Linked DNA regions of Homo sapiens. The protein of the gene in region 2 interacts with the protein of the main gene of each other region in a pairwise test. Each region holds a gene or a part of one and is shown on either strand. Other genes may lie near its edges.

Region 1 (3,500 bases), on a different chromosome or scaffold from region 2:
TGGAAACTGACTCACAGAATGGAATACTGTATATTAGTTAAAATGAATTTAACTATGTATTAACATGGACTTTCAGACTGGAAAGGTCTCCACATCAACCTCCCAAAAAAAGTCTAGTTATGCATCATTTACAAGAGACCTACATAAAACAGAACACAAAAAGGTGAAAGACTAAAGAGTGGGACAGGAATCATAAAAACGGTTCCTGGCAAATGCAAATTTAAAAAGCATGTGGAACTCTATTATTGTTAGGCAAAACTGAATTCAAGGCAAAAAGCACTAAAAGGGACTGTAAAAAGAAACCAAAAAACCCCACAAAAACCTATATAACCTTAAAATACACACAAAATATTAAAAATAGAGAACTAATAGAAACTAGCAAATCCAGATTGAGTGTGGGTGACTTTCACAAATCTTCAGGTATCTGGTACTCATGTGGATAAAAAATATATAGATATTTTTAATAACATACTTAATACTCAATCTCACAGATGAGTCAAGAAATGTGCAGATACATCAAAGCACACGTATTTTTGAAACAACAGGCAAGATTCACAAAAATGGACCGTATCTAACTGGTTACAAAGAAAAATCTCAATAAATTATCAAGAATAAAACATAAACAGCCCATATTCACTAATAATAATGCAACAAAAATCAGAAAACAGTATCAAACAACAGAAGCCTAAATGCGTGGTGGAAGCAGGGAGATGGTATTCAGAGGAAACTTTACAGCTTTAAATACATTTATTTGAAAATTTAAAAATGACTAGTAAAAATTGCTTTTTCAAGAGGCTGGAATGATATAAAAAATCACTTGAATCACTGCATACACCGGAATAGCTACACTTAAAAAGGCTGACCACACCAATGTTGGGAAATATGTGGAGTCATCACAAGTCTCCCACACTGTGGGTGGAGGTAAAAAGAGTTCAGGAGAAGGCCCAGGAATGTCTTATAAAATTAAGCACACACATGCCCTATAATGCAGCAATTCTACGCCTAGTTAACACTAACAGAAATGAAAATGCATGTCCACAAAAAGTATAGAGTATTCCTATACAAGGAACTTTATTCATAGTAGTCAAGCCTGGAATCTGCTTAGGTGTCCTTCAACAGGAGAATGGATAAATCAACGCGTATGTTCATACCATAAAATGCTATTCAGCAATAAACAGCTGTAACCTACTGATACATGTACAACACAGATGAATCTCAAAAGCACTATGCTAAAAGGACGCCAGGCTTAAGTGGCTACATCCTGAAGGATTTCATTTCTGTGATGTTTAATAACAGGAAAAACTAGTCCATTACTTAAAAAATCAGAATAGTGGGTGCCTGGGGTAGAAGGGAGTTGACTAGGAAGTTGCACGACAGAGCCTGCAAGCGTGACAGAGATTCTGTATCTGGATAGGGTGTTTCGATTGCAGAGATTTATGCATTTGTCAGACCTTATAGTGCTATACTTAAGATGTGTGCATTTCACTGGTATGCAAATTTTAACTGAAGAAGGAGGAGCAAGAATCATAAACAGATACTGAACTCTCATTAATGATATATATGCTGAAGTATTTCAGGGTAAATGTACAAGTATCTGCAACTCAGTGAAATGAATGAAAAATCAGATGGATTGATGGACAGATGGAGGCTGGATGGAACGATAAGTGATAAAGTTAGCACAGTAAAATGTAAATGCTAGCATCTAGCTGGTGAGTATACAGGAGCCCACTATAAAATTCTTTCAACCGTATGTTTGAAATTTTTCATTATAAAATGTTAAGAAAAAGAAAACACCTCAAAACACAAAGGAAAGTAGTCCTTGATAAGAAAATTCAATTTAGATATTAATTCTCACCAAACTGACCTAAAAATTCATTGTAATTCCAATCAAACTACCATCAGAATCTTTCAAGGAAATCATGACATTCTTTAACAAGACATAACATGAAAAACAAATTATTAATTTGTAAAAGTTTTAATTTCTATATGATCAAGAAATAAGACATAAAGAATTATCAAAATTCATTAAGAAACAATGTAAAGGAAAAATGAGCGAAGAATATGAAGTGGCAATTGACAAAGAGGAGACATGAGTGCCAAGCAATGTGTGTCCACATGCTCAGCCTCACTAGTAACCAGGGAAATGGAGAACAAAGCAGGTCATTTATTCATTTTTCATCCTTCAGAGTGGCAGAAGTTAACAAGTTTGGAAGTCATCTTATGGAAGATAAGGAGAAATGGGTCCTTTGACGTTGTCGGGAAAGTAACCTACGAATGACCATTTGGCAGTATCAGTTTTAAAAAGGGGATGCCTGTGCCCCTTTAGTTTTTCCTCTTCAGAATCTCTCCTAGAGAAACCCAGCCACAGGTCTCAGGGCCAGGGAAGGGAGACGCGGTGGCACGAGTGGCTGGGATGAGGCTTCCCTGATGGGAATGCCTGTCACAATGGAACAGTCACATGCTCTGCACATGAGTCCAGAAACAGGGAAAGAGAGCATCTGGAAACCTCAAATACACTGAGATGGAAAGATTTCTGTGAATACTGTTAACTAAACATGTCAAGTATAGCATCATTTATGTAAAAAAGTATATAAAACTGATAAGAGGTATTTCTTTTTAAAAATATTTTTGTGTTTATTGTCAAATAGCACTCCAGAAATTTCTCATCAATAGTGTATAGGTAAGCATATTTCTTCATTGCCTCAATAATACTGAGTAATTTATGTGCTTTTAGACCTTTTTTCAAGTTGATTGTTTTGTATTTCCTTAGGTAGATGTATGTATGTACTGAGTGCCTACAAACTCCCTGGATGATTTACCTTTATGACAAGGGAGGCAGGAGGCCTGGAAGGATGGGAGGTCAGGCGGGACTTTCCGAAACTGCCCCAGTCATTTACATCAATGTGTGGATTAAATCCATAACTTAAAGTGAGAAGAAAGTCAATGTAAAAATATTGTGAAATAATTTATATAAATATATATATTTACAATTTGTATATAAATATATGAATGTTTAATATTTGTATAATTATAGCTCTGTAATTATATGTTATGTATTTACAATATATTATATAGTTACATAATATATTTATGTAACTATATATAAATGAACTATAAAAGTTTTATTTATAAAATACATAAATATAGGCCGGGTGCAGTGGCTCATGCCTGTAATCTCAGCACTTTGGGAGGCCAAGGTGGACGGATCACTTGAGGTCAGGAGTTCGAGACCAGTCTGGCCAACATGGTGAAACCCCGTCTCTACTAAAAATACAAACATTAGCCGGGCATGGTGGTGCGCATCTGTAATTTCAGCTACTCGAGGCTCAGACAGGAGAATTGCCTGAACTTGGCAGGCAGAGGTTGCAGTGAGCGGAGACTGCACCACTGCACTCCAGCCTGGGTGACAGGGCGAGACTCTGTCTCAAAAAATAAAATAACTAAAATAAAAGACATAAATATAAAATAAGAGAGAACAATAGTTCAACTTTTGAAATGAC
Region 2 (4,922 bases):
TGTTCTATAAAATAAGTCTGAAGAGAAAGGTTTATTTAGAAGGATTGAGTACACAAGAGAAAAATCTTTGATGTAAAAAGTTATCTGTATTTTATTTGGACGTTTACAAAGGAGTGAAAACCAGCCAACAACAGCCTACCTAATAAAATACAAAATACAAAAGTTCATAATACAACATTTATCAAACTCTGAAAAGATGGGAACTAACTCAACTTAAACATCTAAGAGACACCTACAGCCAACATCTTGGTTAATGGTGAAACATTCAAAATATTCCCATTAAAGCCAGGAGGAAGCCAAGGACACTGCCGTCAAATTACTGATTCCTGGTTTAGCGGTTCCAGTGAGTCATGCACTCTCCTTGCTTCCGTTAACCGCCCCCCCCCCCACCCCAACACCTTTTGTCTGATTCGTCACATGTCCTTTGATCCCCTTTTTCCTCAATCTGTTTGAAATTTTACCTTCTATTCCAATTCATTTAGTGGTTCCCAAAGGGTACCCACGTTGAGACTTAAAAATGTGTCAGTCTAGATTTTTATTGCTCTTATATTCAGCCAGTCTATCGTCTCCAGGCACTAGAGAAGCACTTTAGTAACTTCTAGCTCCTTCTGAGTTTTCGCATGTCCCACATGTCTATATGAGTGTCTTCTGGAATTTTAATTCTAGGTCATCAATCCTTTTTCCAGAATCGTACTTCTCTGGACTTAAGAATACAGTTTCCTAATTTCCATGCTTAGTGATCCTTGTTGCATCCCACTTCTTCCAGGTTGTCTGGGTTGGCTTCTTCTTGGCTGAAAAACGTGACGTGTACTTTCACTGTACATGACAGTTCCATTCCAATCGCCTTGTACAGAAAGGGTGTTTGGCAGCTTGCATGTTGTAAGTTGCGTACTCCAAGTTCAGGGGAAGCTCAGGCTTCAGGTCCAGTCGGGGGAGGAGTGGAGCAGAAGTGGGGCTGGGGGGAACGTCCAGGTGGAAGGAAGGGAGGCTGGGAACAACGTGGGTGGCAGATAGTGGTCAATACGCAATGTCGGTGAGGAACACTGGGACCCCTTGCACGTAGGTGCCCTGGGGGGTTTGAATGACTTGTAAAACCGCTGAGTCACCCAGAGCCCTAAACCCGATGCAGGGATAGAGGGTCAAGACGGGTTGCCAGTCAACAGCCTGAGGCCCAGGAGCAGCGGGCGGCTCCTGAAACCCCAGCTCAGGTTGCGCCACGTCGGGGCCAGGGCCTTCCTGCACAGTTCCAGGCGGAGGACCTGTTTCAGAAAGGGAGAAGGCTGCGGTCTCCGTGATTTCCGGTTCCCCCTGGTGGCCTGGCTCTCCATGGTGGTCCAGTTGGATGTGCACGTCCGGTGCCATCAAGCCTTCTGCCCCCTGTCTCTGGCCAGCGTCCCCGCGGGGCCCAGCCCTTCTGCCACGGCCTCGCCCTGGCCGCCGGCTTCCTCCCCGGCGCCGGCCTCTCTCTGCAGGAGGGGGTGACTCTGGGCGAGCTGGGGGCTGCCGTCTGAAGGGTTTCACGTAAGCGATGGGTTTTGCGGGTTGGGCTGGCTGTGCGGGCCCATCTGCTTCCACGGAGCCTTCAGGGTCCGCAACACAGCAGCCTGGCTCTGGAGGAGGCCCACCTGAGGCTAAAAGAGAAGCGGAGCGTGAGCAGAGAGAGACAGAAGGAACTTCACCCGTCAAGCAGTTATAGGATACTTTTACAAATAAATACTCAGAGAAAAGAGGGATTTCTGAAGTTAAAATTGTGAGAGAAGAAACAAAACTCTCCACGGAAGTTGGAGAATGAAGTTGAGAAGGTCTCCCACAGAACAAAGCAAAAACCTAAAATGATGGAAAGAAGGATGAAATATAAGAGAATTAGAGGTATGCTGTGGCTGAGACATTTCACCAGAAAATTTCAGAGTGCTGAGGAAAAAGAGAAGATTCTAACAGATTCTAGAGAGCGGGAGACAGAGAAAGGAAAAGTCACATGGAAAGGGCTAGGATTCCACATGTCTCAAAAGTCAGACATCTCAAAAGCAGCAGTTCAGTCTAGAACATAACAGAAAATGTCTTCGAAATTTCAAGGGAAATGAATTTCCCACCTAAAATTTCCTGTCCAACCGAAGTTTCGCTGAAGAATCTGGGAGGGGAGAATGAAGATGTTTCAGACAAGCAAGATGTTAAAGAATTTCCTTTCAGTGGATGCTTTATTGTTATGCATCTGTCAAACTAGACAAGATTAAAAGATTTAGGACACTCAGCGTATGAAGGGAAATGTTTTGGAGAACAACGTGGCAACAGCCGGAAAATTCCAACTCCTCCGGGAAAGAACAAGGTGGAAGTACCGGTTTATCATAGATCAAGACGTAGCGTGAGGACTCGCTCTGCTACGGAGAAACAGTAATACAAAACTAAACAGAAGGAAACAGCGACAACAACAGCAAATCTCAGATTTGGGAAATGGGATTACGGTTCGGAAGAGGGAAAGGAATTTCCCAGATGATGTGGAACCCGGGAGCTGACTTCCAACAAGCAGCCCAGGTTGAGGCAGGCTAGGAGAAGGTGAAACAGAGAATGCTTGATTGAGTTTGAGTGTCAACCATTGGGGAAGAATTGGGGAACAGACGAAATTAAAAAGAGAGGAGTGGCAGGCGTTTGATGTACCTTGATTAGGGGCCATGGAGCGAAGTCGCTTCGAAGGCCTTGGTTCCTCCATGAGCAATCGGCGGGAGGGGCTGGGGAGAAAAACAAGAGAGCAAGAACGGATTTAGGAAGACAGAGGTGACAAGGCAGGGGGATGGCCGTGGCCTTTCTAGGGGAATGAGGATTCTGTCCCCAACTGCACCCACCCGAGATCCGTCCACGCCTCCGGGACCCCCAGACACACACCTGATCTTCCCACAGCTGGCTCCGGAGATCTGAAAATTAGGAGACTCTTCGACGAAGAGAGGCCCGAGGAGTCGGAGGTGTCCACAGGTTCACCGCTGTAGCTCTGAGGTAGTCCACCCGCAGCCAGGGAGTCTGGAGGGAGCACGCAGCAGGTTCTGGCTCCGAGCCCAGCAGAAAGCCGACTGCTGGAGGCCGAGCGCCGTCCCTCTTATATGGCAGCAAGGCAGTCGCGTAAGGGACAGGCGTCGTCAGAGGGGGGCCGGCTGGGGCGGGCCTGGCTGGGCTTGCGAGGCGCATTGGGCCAGTCCCCTGCCAGTCAAATGGGGGCCCTTCTGAGATGCCGCCATTTCTAGACGTCCGTGGTTGATTGATTAATCTAATCATCGAGGAAAAAAAATTGCATAATGACCTCTGAGTGTCAGCACAATGAGGTGTGGTGCCCTGAAAGCGGCTGACAGGAAGATGCGATTAGCTTAGATCTGAGCATGGTCAAGGAAAGCATCCAAAGCGGGGATATCTGGGCTGAAATCTGGAACATAACGTTTGAAATTAGTCATCCTGAACCGGGTTGGGAGAGGCAGGGAGGGAGGAAGGGGAGTGAAGAGAGTGTGCTGAGGCCCGGACTGGAAGGGAGCCCGGCACATTCTGGGAATGGACGGGAGGCCAAGTCCAGGCCCGGAGGTGGTGCGAGGTGGAGGCAGGGTCCGCGCAGGAGCTGGTCTTGTTCCAAGGCAGCGGAAAACCGTGGAACGGTGTCCGGCAGCGGGTTAACATTTCAGAAACGACCAGCCTGGCTGTGAAGGAGCGCCAACCCAGGGTCCGCAGAATAAGTCAGGAGAGGCAAGAAGGCTATTGCAGCCCTCGGGGTTGGGCGCAGGGTGCTGTTAGACTGAGACTCAGGGAGGTAGAGGAGGAGAAAGTTCCCTGGTGGGAGAGAAATTTCCAAGAGAAAGCGAGACCCAGTGTGGACAGCCCTTGAGGAAGAGACTGCGGCCTTGGTAGCCCGCCGGTTCATTCAGGCAGAGGTGGACCGAGAACCTGCTCTGAACGGGAAGTTGCGGAGCTTGGCTTGCGCACATCTGGTTGAAGGGGCTTTTGAACTGCCAAGTGAGGATGTCAAGTGGCCTTTTGTAAAAAGAGTCGAGCTCAGCGCGATGGCGACGGGGCTGGAGATGCGTGTGAGACCCACACCGCTGGCTTTTATTGCTGTGGGTGCACTCACGGGTGGAGGAAGACAGCGGGAAACACAGCAGGACGCTGGAGGGGATCCCACAGTGGGTTATTTGGTTGGTTTGCATCCTTGTGTCTTTTACAGAGACGGGTTCTCGCTCTGTAGCCCAGGCTGGAGTGCAGCGGTGCCATCTCGGCTCGCTGCGGCTACTTGGGGTGGGGCGGGGGGGGGGGGGGGGCTGAGATAGGAGAATCAGTTCAAGTGATTCTCCTGTCTCGGCCTCCGGAGTAGCTGGACTACAGGTGAGCGCCACCACATCGGGATAATTTTCGGATTTTTTTGGAGAGACGAGGTTTCGCTATGTGCCCAGGCTTGTTTGGAAGGCCTGAGCTCAAGCCGTCCGTCCCGCTCAACCTCCCGAGTCGCTGGGACCCCAGGCGCAAGCCACCATGCCCGGCCAATTATTTTTTTGGGTTGTATTTCCTGTTGAAGTGAGGTTTTGCTATGCTTTCACCTCACATACCTTTTCTGTCCCAAGACCCCATCCAGGGTACCACCTTACAACTCGTCACGGTTCCCCTTGGCTGCGACGGTTTCTCACACTTGCCTTGTTTTTGATGACCCTGACACTTTGAATACTGATCAGATATATTGTGGGATGTCCTCTCCTGAAGTTCGTGTGATGTATTCCTTGTGATCTGACTGGAATTATATGTTTTTGTCAGGAAGATTGCAGCGGGAAAGCGCCATTCCCATCCCATCCTGTCTAGAGTACACACCATCAAGCCGGCTTATCACTGCTGCTATTAGTCCTGGTCACCGGGCTGGGGCAGTGTTGATTAGGTTTCTCCACCATAAAGTGATTTTCCCACCT

The links. Proteins that work in one complex are often made in the same cells at the same time.
Region 1: the proteins of PRR20B (region 2) and ROR2 interact in a two-hybrid assay, tested with the Homo sapiens proteins (one large-scale study listed by BioGRID).

The regions. Positions count from the first base shown.
Region 1 is NC_000009.12:91,751,229-91,754,728, forward strand, and holds part of ROR2 (tyrosine-protein kinase transmembrane receptor ROR2 isoform 1 precursor), read right to left. Parts: intron 1-3,500. UniProt on the Homo sapiens protein: Tyrosine-protein kinase receptor which may be involved in the early formation of the chondrocytes. It seems to be required for cartilage and growth plate development. Phosphorylates YWHAB, leading to induction of osteogenesis and bone formation.
Region 2 is NC_000013.11:57,145,657-57,150,578, reverse strand, and holds PRR20B (proline-rich protein 20B), read right to left. Parts: upstream 3,092-4,922; 5' UTR 2,878-3,091; intron 2,724-2,877; 5' UTR 2,705-2,723; coding exon 2,653-2,704; intron 1,632-2,652; coding exon 1,018-1,631; 3' UTR 70-1,017; downstream 1-69.